2 separate regions of the Homo sapiens genome follow, and region 1 is reported to be linked to region 2. Evidence: microRNA targets listed by miRTarBase, many of them from high-throughput screens and not tested one by one. Region 2 holds a microRNA gene; the other region holds the end of a gene's coding sequence.

Region 1 (3,000 bases), not on the chromosome of region 2:
GAGCAGATGGGACATCCGGCTTTGACTCTCTCTTGACAACCCCTTTCCCAGGGAGTGAGCTGGTACCACTGGAAGGGCTTCGAGTTCTCGGTGCCCTTCACGGAAATGAAGCTGAGACCAAGAAACTTTCGCTCCCCAGCGGGGGGAGGCTGAGCTGCTGCCCACCTCTCTCGCACCCCAGTATGACTGCCGAGCACTGAGGGGTCGCCCCGAGAGAAGAGCCAGGGTCCTTCACCACCCAGCCGCTGGAGGAAGCCTTCTCTGCCAGCGATCTCGCAGCACTGTGTTTACAGGGGGGAGGGGAGGGGTTCGTACGGGAGCAATAAAGGAGAAACTGAGGTACCCGGCTGGCATCGGTCCTGCCCCATCACTGGCTCTGGCCCGGGCTGTGGGCCCCCATCCCCCGGGGCTGCAGCCGCACTTGGAAAGGCTGCATCTTGAGGATGACACTGCAGTGGGGCAGGGGCTGCAGGGAGGGCAGGGCGTCCCCGGAGGGCAGCAGCGTGAAGGCCTGCAGCAGTCGGGTCAGCACCACGAAGAGCTCCAGGCGCGCCAGCGGCTCGCCCAGGCACACGCGGGCACCGCAGCCGAAGGCCAGAGCTCTGGAGTTCTTGCCTGGCTCCAGGAAGCGATCTGCGGGCGGGTGGACAGGTGGGTGGGGAGGCGTTCAGCGGCAGCGGGGACCAGCCTCCACCACATTTTCACGGCAGGCCCCCGGCCCCCCACATACCAGGCCAGAACTCATGTGGCCTCTCCCAGACCGTCTCATCCAGGTGGGCGCCTTGGAGGTTCGGAATGATGACTGTGCCCTCAGGGATGTCGTAGCCGGAGATGCTGAAGGGGGCTGGAGTTAGAGGCTGGCCAGGACCTCCCTGGGCTCGGGCTTTCCTCACTCATCCCCAACCCTCGGGAGTCACCTGCTGGGCCGTGTGGTGCGGTGGGGCAAGGCTAAGGGCACAACGGGCCGCAGGCGCAGCACCTCGGCGATGGTGGCATTGAGCAAGGGCAGCCGTGCACGGTCCTTGTAGGGGACCCGGGAGCTGGAGGCACCAGGGCCCAGTTCGTGGTCTAGCTCCTCCTGCAGTCGCTGCTGAATCTGGGGAATGATCGGGTGGAGTCCTGCCCCAGCAGCCCACAGCTGCCCAGCCTCCAGCCGCTCCCTCAGCAACCCAGTGAGCCTGAGTGCCGGTGAGGCAAGCACAGCCCCAGCCGCACAGTGCTCAGAGCTGAGTGAGGGTGCCCACCGCCCTGGCCAGGTTGCTGGGAAGGAGCCTTTTGCTTGTCCCCAGGACGCACCTCAGGGTGGTGAAGCAAAAAAACCACGGCCCAGGAGAGGGTGTTTGCTGTGGTCTCAGTGCCACCGATCAGGAGGTCCACTGCAGCCATGTGCACGTGCCCTTCCAGGAGCTGTCCAGAGCCCTCTTCCATGCTCGGCTGCGCCACCCCTTGGAGCATGTAGTCCATCATGTCCCTCCACTGGCCTGCCACGAGGCTCTCCTGCAGAGGGTGAAAGGAGCGGGCTGAGCGGCTGGCCTGGGGAGAGGAGTACAGAGTGGCAACAGGCCCATAACTGGGGTATGCAAAAGAACCCGCCTCATAGCAATGCTGAGGCCGGTAGCATCACTGGCTGTGGGCCGAGGGGAGGCCGTCCACGTACAGTCCCCACCTTGTGCTGCCTCAGCTGCATCTCCACGATGTGATCCCTCTTCTCTATGGCCTGCTTCAGCCTCCGGAGACCTGGATTGGGGAAGAACTGCGGCAGGAAGCATGAGAATGCAGCTGTGGGAAGGAGCCTCTCCCTCCACCCCAGCCTCTCCCCTACAACCCAGGGGTGTCTAGGCTCCAGGTCCTCACCCTGAGAAAGGGAATCACGTCCACAATTTGGATGGACCAGTGGCTCCAGGTTTTTAACACCTCCTGGATACATTTGTAATAGGCAGGCATTAAGTTGTCGTCCTGCCAGAAAAGGAGGGAGTACTTTCAGTTCAGGACAAGGAGAGGCTCAGGGAGGGGCTGGGGGTGGGCCTGAGGGGCTGTGAGGCACCTTGATCTTGTCTCCGAAGGTGAGGTAACAGATGATGCTGCAGGTGAGGAGAGAGAATTCCTCCTCAATGGCCACAGGGGTGCCGGGCTGGGCTCTCATGCGCTGTGGAGAAACAGTGTGAGTTCAGCAGGCCGCTGTGCAGCGGGCAGGGCGGGGGCTACTGTGAGAGGCGAGGCTGACCCGAGGTGGCCTCAGGAGCCCAGCCTTACCTCACAGAACTCCTGGGTCAGCTGCTCCACCACTGGCTCCATGGAGTCACGGATGCCCAGCAGCAGGGCTGAGCGGGTGAGCTTCTTGTGGGCTTTCCAGAGCAGGGAGTAGTCTCCCAAGGACAGGTCCGGGTAGTTCCTAGACACCAGCTTGTCTGCAGGAGGAGGTGGGGGCTGGAGGGTGGGAACTGATGAAGGCAGCTGAGGGCCTGACCTTCTTCGGCCTCCCCAACCCCTGCTTTCTCCCCACCAGATATGCCCCCCCAAGAGCTTCCAGGGACCTGGATTGGGGATGCCCCAAAGGTGGCTCACACTTGAGGCTGAGGTGGGAGGATCATTTGAGACTAGGAATTTAAGACCAGCCTGGGCAGCATAGCAAGAACCCATCTCTTAAAAAAAAATTTTTTTAAGAAAGAAAAAATGCCCCCGGCCCTTACAGGTAAGTGGCTCAGGTCTGCCAGCAAAGTCTGCCCACTTTTTGACCATGGCTTCCTCAATGGTCCTCTTGGAGTTCAGCACCACCACATCTGGGAGACAGCCAAAGCAGCGTCAGCGGAGAGAGGACCCTCTCCGTCACCTCCGCCCCCTCCTATGGTGAGGGCCAGAGCGAGATCAGCCTCTCACCTTGCAGCCCAAGGTGGAGCCTGTAGATGGGCCCGAATTTCTGAGTCAGGCCAAGCAGATAGATGGGGAGGTCGGGCTGCAGCAGGTGCAAGAAGCCCGGGGCAAGAGGCGGGAGGTGGAGGC
Region 2 (7,801 bases):
CCCAACTGGTGGTGGCCTGAGGGCCCTGCCTGGTACTGGAAGCTCAGCTGGGAAGCCCAGTGGGGCTGGGCAGTCAGTCACCTCTGCGTTTTCTTCTGTCAACACCCTGCCAGCAGCCTGGAATCAGAGGGAGCCAGGGCACGGCATGGCGAGATGCTGGCCCCCGAGTTGGCAGGCCTGGCAGCACTTGAGTTTTCTTTCCAGAGGTCCCTGCCTCAGATCCACAAATGATGTTCATCCATTCATCTAAGAGACCTACTGTGTGCCAGACACAGGCTGCATAGATGAAGGGGGTCACACTCATCTCAATGACCCTGCAGCTTAGGTGGGGTCTGGCAGGGCGGAAGGACCCCTGGCACACCATGTCCAGGGATTACCAGGGCTCAGAGAAGGAAGTCGGATTCAGGGGGAGAGAAGATCTGGAAGGGCTTTCTAAAGGAGGTGACGCTTGAGCTGAGTCTCGAAGCGGAGGGAGCAGTTAGCTAGGTGGACGACGGCACTTTCTGGCCCCATGTGGCTGCAGTGTAGGGAACGATGGGATACGAAGCCAGGGGCCTGGGCCGGGGGACATGGAAGGCGGGATGTTATGAACGGACGTTGGGCTTGGGATTTATATTTGAGAAGGATCATTCTAGGGCATCGAGGACGAGAGCTCGGGCAATAGGGTTTAGGGGCAGGGAGCCCGGGTGGAAGGCTGGCACAGAAGTCCGGGGCAGCAATGTGGGCCTGGACAGGGTGTGCGTGGTGTGACATTTAGGAAGTGCAGTCAGTAGGAACAGGCGGGATAAAAGCAATGAGGGGAGTTGGGGTGGCTGTCTGGTTTCTAGCTCAGCCAACTGTGTGGGTGGGGATGCCCTTCATGGAGGGGGCATGGGTTGGGGGGAGTCGGAGAGAGCAGGAGGTGCCTCCCACATGGAGCTGGGTTGTAGCTGGGGCTTGAGGGCGGGTGGGATTTCCCCAGGGGGAGGCTGAGCCAGGCCAGGCTTGCAGAAGGAGGCTGGAGCCTGAGTCATAAGGCCTGGAGGCGGGGTGCCTTGTGCGATGGATGAGAAAGGCAGGTGCATTTCAGTCTGTAACTGGTACGACCCCTGCAGATGTTTGAAGGAAGATTTTGAGGAAGGTGCTCGCACCCTTGCATTGGGAATGCTGATGAGTTAGCGCCTCTACTTCACAGTGATTTCCCCAAAAGATGAGCTGCAAGGCCTAGACCCTGGCCCTCCACCCAGGACCTGCGGCGAGCATCATCACCGTCTGAGAATCTTTGGGTGGGCTGGAAGTTGATGTCAAGCTGTCCAGCCTTTCCGTCACTCTCCATTCAGAGGCAGGTCTGCGGAGAGAGATAGGAGGGACAAGCTGGGGACAGCATTTTTGGAAAGCAAACAGAAAAGAAGCAAAAACTGTTCCTCTAAAATAGAAAGGAGGCTTATGTGTGTTATGTGAAGGATAATGTGGAAGGCTATTTCCAAAGAATTTCTCAAAAAATGACGTGAGCCATGTCAGCATCATTGAATTTAGATAGAGGCCAGGAGCAGTGTGGCATCGTGCTGGGGCCACCAGGCTGGGGACTGGACAGATGATGGTTTCACCTCACCCCTGCCACCTCCTTGCTGCGTGTCATTGGAAGATCACTCAACCTTTCTTAGGCTCAGTTTTACCATCTGTAAAATGGACATAACTTCACAGGCTGGTGTTGTTTGTTTTGAGCATTGCTTCTTGGACTAAACCTGGATATTTTTTCCTTCCCTCCCTCGCTTCTGCACTTCCTCTGGTTCTTTGCCTCCCAAGAAGCCTGTTTCCTCCTGTTCCCTCCAAAACTCCAAGTTTTGAGTTCCCCCTTCCTGGGAAGGTCCATTCGTCATGTTCTATTGACTCTCTTGTTCCCAATTATTCCCTGCAAACCTGGTTCACCCAGTGTATTTGAAGAGCATCTACTGAGCTAAATGGGAGTTATTGGGGGTCAGTTCCTGTTTTCTTTTTAATAAGGGGAGGGAGGGTCTGTGCAGAGCTGTCCGGGAGAGCAGAGGGCATGGGGGACAGGGGGGATGTTGCAGGACCCAGTGGGACCACAGCTGGGACCTTGCCCTGTAGCTGGCTCAGTGTGCCAGGGGATAGGGGCACAGAGCCCTGGTGGGTCTGGGAGATGAGCTTGGGAAGGACTTGGCCTGGACATGGGCTAGGCTGCCCTGCTTTCCGAGCCAGACCTCAGGAGATGGCAGAGAGGGCCGCTTCCTCTGTGAGGGCCGTACATGATGGCCCTTGGGCTGTATGGTGGCCTTGTGACATGCAGCCACACCCCTGGGGAGACCTTTGAAGCATCTCTGCATTCTGGAGGATCTGCTGGGAAGATGGCTTCGCAGCGGGGCTCTTGTTGATGCTGCCAAGAAGGCCGGGTGGGAGTCGGGCTGTCTCTGGCTGGGGGTGGGGTGGGGGCTGCGGTCCATCCGAGTGTGGAAATCCACGTTTCTCTGGTTTGTGCAGACCTGTGCAAGCAGCCATGCTGCAGGACTGGCCCCCTGGAAGTGGGGCATACATGAACTCAGGGTGTGGCGTTGTAATCAAATGAAATGTACAGCATAATTAATCTGGCATACCCTTAATGATATGCATAATTGTGCTGCATGGTAATTAGGTGTAAATGGTAAGCAGTTCACATAAATGTTTTTGTAATTGGTATTAATTTTGCAGAGGCAAACCAAGTTTATGTGGTTTTTCTCTTCTTGCTCTGTTAGTTTTCTAGTACAGGCATTTCCAAGCTTTTGGAGGAATTCTATTGCAAATGTTTGTTTATAGGGCAATGTTTTGTGTTTTCTCTCAGAACAATGTTATGAATGGTTATGAGGTTCCCAAGCTGGTTTCCAAATGCCTCTTTGGCCCATACAGTAGGTGAAATGTGCAACGCGTGTGCCTGTGTCGGAAGGCCCGCCCAGCATCCTCTGGCTCCAGGTGCCCCAGCGTGTGCAGCATGAGGGGGGCTGTGTGCGTGTGTGAACCTGTGCGCCTGGGTCATCTCTGCATTTGTCTAGGTATATCTCTGTGTGTGCATCTATGTGTGTTTGTATCTGTGTGTCTGTGTGTGTGTGTGTGTGTGTGTGTGTGTGTGTGTGTGTGGGGTCTGCATGACTGTGAGAGACTCCTGAGGCCACAGTGGCAGGTAGACATTCTCTGGTAAATACATTCCCCATTCTAGTGGCACGGGGCCTGGGCTGGAGACTTAGGGGCATCAGCTGGGAGGGGGAGCCTGGCACAGCAGCCGTTCCTAGGAGTGAGCACAAGCCACTCTGAAGTGTGGTCTGAAGCCAGAGTCTAGGTTTCCTAAGAACATATGGCTTGCCTTTCTTTCTGATCAAGCACATAATAATTTTTAAATGATCATTTATTGAGTACCTGCCACGTGCCAGGCCCTATGTTAAACACTTGACTCAGATTCCCTCCTATCTTAAAATAGACTTATGAAATAGGGACTCTTTCTCACCCCGCTTTACAACTTGGGAAACTGAGGCCCGAATCTCTCAGTGACAGAGCCAGGGTTTGAGGCAGGGACTGCTGGAGGCAGGGCCCATGGTTCTGAGATGTGCTGCTCAGAACCCTGGGCTCTTCTCCCTCCCTCGGCCCCCTCCACAAATGGTTTGTTTTTGTTGGGACAGACGATGAGGAGAAAGGCGGCCCTGTGGGAAATCTGAGAGCAGCGAGCTCCCTTCCTGCTGAATTGGTTGGGGTGGTGGGGGACGAGCTCCAACAGCCGCTCCCAAGCCCTGAAGACCCTTTGGGGGACCTCCTGGTTTTGACCCAAGAGGGAGCTGGTTTAGGAAGTGGGGTTGGGGGACTGTGGCCATGGACGGTGTGGGGAGAGGGTGGTCACAGGCCAGACAAGGACTCAGCCCCCCTGATTCCTGTGGTTCACTGATAGCCTAGGCCCTCACCAACCCCTTCACCTTGGGGATCTGGGGCAGGTGAGCCTGCAGACCCACAGCAGGTGTATGTTCTGCCCTCGGAGCTCCTGCAAACAGCCTTTCCACTGACGCAGTGCCTTGGGGGCTCTGCCAAGCGACCCCTAGAATGGGGATTGTGGGGGGTCGCTCTAGGCACCGCAGCACTGTGCTGGGGATGTTGCAGCTGCCTGGGAGTGACTTCACACAGTCCTCTCTGCCTCCAGGGTCACCCGGAACGGGGTTGCGGGGGACAAGCTGTGGGCGGGGGGGACGGGCAGCAAGATACAACGCATGAACTCTGACCTCGTCTCTTTGAGAAATCAGACACATCTATATACGCATGGAACACTCAATGACCCCTGGGTGGGTGGTCGAGGAGAAGGGGACGGTGTTTTGGGGGAGGAGAGATGTTGGGTTGAAGGACTGGGAGAGAGGAGCTGAGTGGGCCCTGTGGGAGAGGGTGGGAGCCAGGGGTGTCATTCCGGGACAGCAGCCGGGCCTGGAATGATGCAGCTGGGAGAGGTGGGGGCACGGCCAGAGCAGTGGGCGGAGGCTGCGTTGTAGCCAGCCCTGGTGAGACCAGGCCAGAGCGTATATTTTACCACGTGTGCAAATCTTTGGCATCACCGGATTTTTAAAAATAATAGCTTTAAGATATAATTCACATTCCATACAGTTCACCCATATAAGTGTACAGTTCGATGGTTTTAGTACATTCACAATCAACTTTTTAAAATTGTCATGAGGTGTCATAGGTTTTCATAGAGGGAGCCATGTGTGGGCAATCCTTGCTGATAGGGTGGGGTGGGAGGTAGAGATGCCAGAGGCAGGTGGACCCGCTCCAGGGCATCTACCAGGTTATTGTGCCACAGACACAAGAGGTACAAAGGGCCTGGAGGGAATAGGGGGACGAGAGAAGCCCAAGGACCAGGTACCTGCTGGATGTGAGGACCCAGGGGAAAGGTGGGACCTGAGTTTTCTCCAGGGTTTGGGACTTAGGCAGCTGAAGGGAGGGGAATGTTACTTCCACATAGAGGGAAAAACCAGAAAATAGAGCCGGCTCTGAAAGAAGCATGTTCTGGAAGAGTAGGATTTTAGGGACTGCAAGTCATCCAGTTGGGATGAAAATAAATAGAGCTGGAGCCCCTGGCAGTAGGAGGCGTATGTTAACTTATGCCCAGGTGTCTTAGAGGAAGAGCATTTAGAGAGAAGCTGAAGGTAGAACATGACCTTTGAGGAGCACCCACCGTGCAGAAGTGGGATCAAGACTCCCGGACAGCCCCAGAGACAAAGCTGCAGAATCTGAGGCTGGAGACCCAGAAGCAAGGAGCCAGATGGAGTCATGGCTGGGAGAGAACACACAGAAGGCAGTTGCTGGTGAGCTCCAGAAGCAGGGGTCTCCTTTCACTCCAGGGCCCGGCTCCACAATGGCACTCAAGAAATGGCTGTTGAGTGAGTGCTTGAAGCAGGGAGTGATTAGCTGGCCAGGATGTTGAATTGAGCTCAAGGGCCATGAGGATGGAAAAAAGCCCTTTGGGGCCGCGGGTGACTGTATCAGTCAGGGTCCATTCAGAAGACAGAAACCACATGGTGATTGGAACAAGGAAAGTTTCACATAACGAATTATTAACTCTAATTGGATTGGAATAATGAGGAATTGGCTAGTAAGAAGTAAAAATAACTCCAAAGAATACAAAAATAATAGATATGAGAACAGCCCCTACCTCTAGGGTTGCCACAGAGTGCCCAAGGAAGAGGCCCCGCAGGGTTGAGATCCACACCTTGATGGAGAGGGTGTGGCGATGGCTCCCTGGATGGCAACGTCTCTGTAATGCCATGTTGGCAGAACTTGCTGGAAATCCACCCTCTGGAATTTACTGGAAATCCATCTTTTTGGGTCCCAAGGAAAGTTGTTTGTGGGAGGTATCTTGCTGGAAGCACACCGCTGCTACGTTTTCCCAGGGGAGTGCTGGGAGAAGCTCCTGGCTGTTGGGTACTCCTGACTGACGTGTTGCTGGAGCCAGGTGCTGGAGAAGCTGTCTGCATTGCAACAGCCTGGCACTCCTGCAGGAGCTGGGCACTGGAAAGCTGCATGCTGGAGAAGCTGCAGCAGCACAGGAGCTGGGTGCTGGGAAGCTTCATATCTGGCAAGACCCTGATGCTGGGAAGCGCCCATGCAGCAAGATCTGGCTGCTAGAGAAGTTGTATACAATGCAGGAACCCAACAAGAGCACACTGGGTCTAGAAAGGAAACCCACCTCCTCCTTCAATGCCTCTTCAGTGCCCTCCACAGTTGTGCCAGCTGACAAAGGAAAAGTAGTTAAAGGGCCCAGCTCCATCTTCACAGCACAGGCAATGATGGGCGAATAAACTGATAACTGGCACAGTTTACCCCTTTGGCTGCACAGCTTCCATTTGCACCTTTCTACAACATCTGAACTCCCATACAAAAACAAACAACTGGATGTCTACCTATCAAGATAGTTATCCTTCTTATGAAATTCTCACCCTTTTGCCCAGAGAGCCCCAACCATCATTCTACCAATCCCTGGCTACAATAACTTCTCAAAGTCAGTCACAGTCTCACTGAATATTCTGTTACCTAAAGACTACATTATAAAGCTAACTGTCAACAACTTGTATAGAAAAGAATGGGAAGGAGAAAAAAAGAAGAAAATGGTTACCATATTGCAAACACACCACACACACACACACACACACACACACACACACACACACACACATATATATCAAGTTAATAGAAAATGTGCAAAACCACTAGAGGCCTGGTTTCTGCATTTGTTCACAAGGCTACACTTTACACTTGCTACCTGGCTTCATTGTCTTCTTATCCCATTCTGTGTTTCCTCCACACTCAGCCAGAGCCTTAGCAGGTCATGCTTCTTTTACTTGGTGGAGTAACCCAAACCCTCATTCCCAAAGGACCTGAATCCTTAGTTATCCCGCTTTTGTTGTTGTTACCATAACTTTCCATTCAGCCTTCCTTTGGGCATGGACGTTCTTAAGAGGTGCCTGAGAGAATTCGCTGGGTTCCAGACACAGTCTTGCTTGGCTCTGTGGCTGATCAGCAATCCAGTTTTCTCCTTGGTAACTAGGATCAATCACTCCAGACAGTGGCATAACTCCTTTTTTCCACTGTCAGTTCAGTGGCGTAAGGAGTTCGAGAAAGCCAAGTGGGTGTGTGTGTCTTCTCTCCCAGGGAAAGCATTATAATATGTCCCTGGTGGGAGCACTCTCCCCCGAGGACGAGGTCAGCATCCCCAGAAGGTTTTAGAGTTGTGGGGTGGGGAAACAGGGCCACGCGCAGGGGACTAAGTGATAGAGGCTCTGGAGCTGGCAGCTGTGGACCATGCTGTAGAGAAGGTTGGAAAAGTAGAGAAACATGCAGATGACCGTGGGCCGCTTCCGCTGTGGATGATAAAATCAGACCCATGCTGGTCACTGCCAGACCCCATCCAGGACCATGTGTCTGATTCTCACATGGACTCTGTGCCACCCTGTGCCCCTGACTCCCAGGCCGTGGGAAGCCCATCTGACCCACAGCACGTGTGACCCCTAGACAGGGCTTCTCCTGGCTTGCAGCACTTGGAAATCGGTGCTGCCTTACGGAAGTCTGTGTTGGCTCATTTTGGCTCCTGAGAACAACTTCAGCTCCTTAACAGCATCTATTTTAGGTATAAATCCCCCCCCCGCTCACTTTTGGGGCTGTGTCATGGCAACCATTAGTGTGAGCAAAGCAGTCTGACTCAGACTCCCATGTGGCCGCCGTAGTGGCAGCAGGTTTGGTGTGATCATAAGTGCTCCTGCTGGTGGTGCCAGTGCTGGTGGTGCCAGTGCTGGTGGTGCCATGG

What was found. Region 2 holds the annotated microRNA hsa-miR-1301-3p (UUGCAGCUGCCUGGGAGUGACUUC, at 4,108-4,131, shown strand). A microRNA usually pairs through its seed, bases 2 to 8, with sites in the 3' UTR of a target mRNA and lowers its output. Matches are read on the target gene's strand: a 7mer-m8 pairs with bases 2 to 8, a 7mer-A1 pairs with bases 2 to 7 and ends in A, and an 8mer does both.
Region 1: miRTarBase lists TNXB as a target of hsa-miR-1301-3p. The part of its 3' UTR that is shown has no 7-base or 8-base seed match.

What each region holds. Positions count from the first base shown.
Region 1 is chr6:32,038,502-32,041,501 of GRCh38, reverse strand. It overlaps TNXB (tenascin XB), which reads left to right. Exons shown (of 44, transcript NM_001365276.2): 44 at 52-349. The coding sequence ends at 153. It overlaps CYP21A2 (cytochrome P450 family 21 subfamily A member 2), which reads right to left. Exons shown (of 10, transcript NM_000500.9): 1 at 2,878-3,000; 2 at 2,691-2,780; 3 at 2,254-2,408; 4 at 2,045-2,146; 5 at 1,855-1,956; 6 at 1,667-1,753; 7 at 1,297-1,497; 8 at 918-1,096; 9 at 731-834; 10 at 1-633. The coding sequence ends at 368. Among named protein-coding and RNA genes, the nearest start is that of CYP21A2, 1.6 kb to the right of the region's middle.
Region 2 is chr2:25,324,981-25,332,781 of GRCh38, reverse strand. MIR1301 (microRNA 1301) reads left to right here and starts at 4,061; the gene lies at 4,061-4,142. The region is part of intron 1 of DNMT3A (DNA methyltransferase 3 alpha); the gene reads left to right. RefSeq lists enhancers at 1,756-2,256, 2,257-2,757.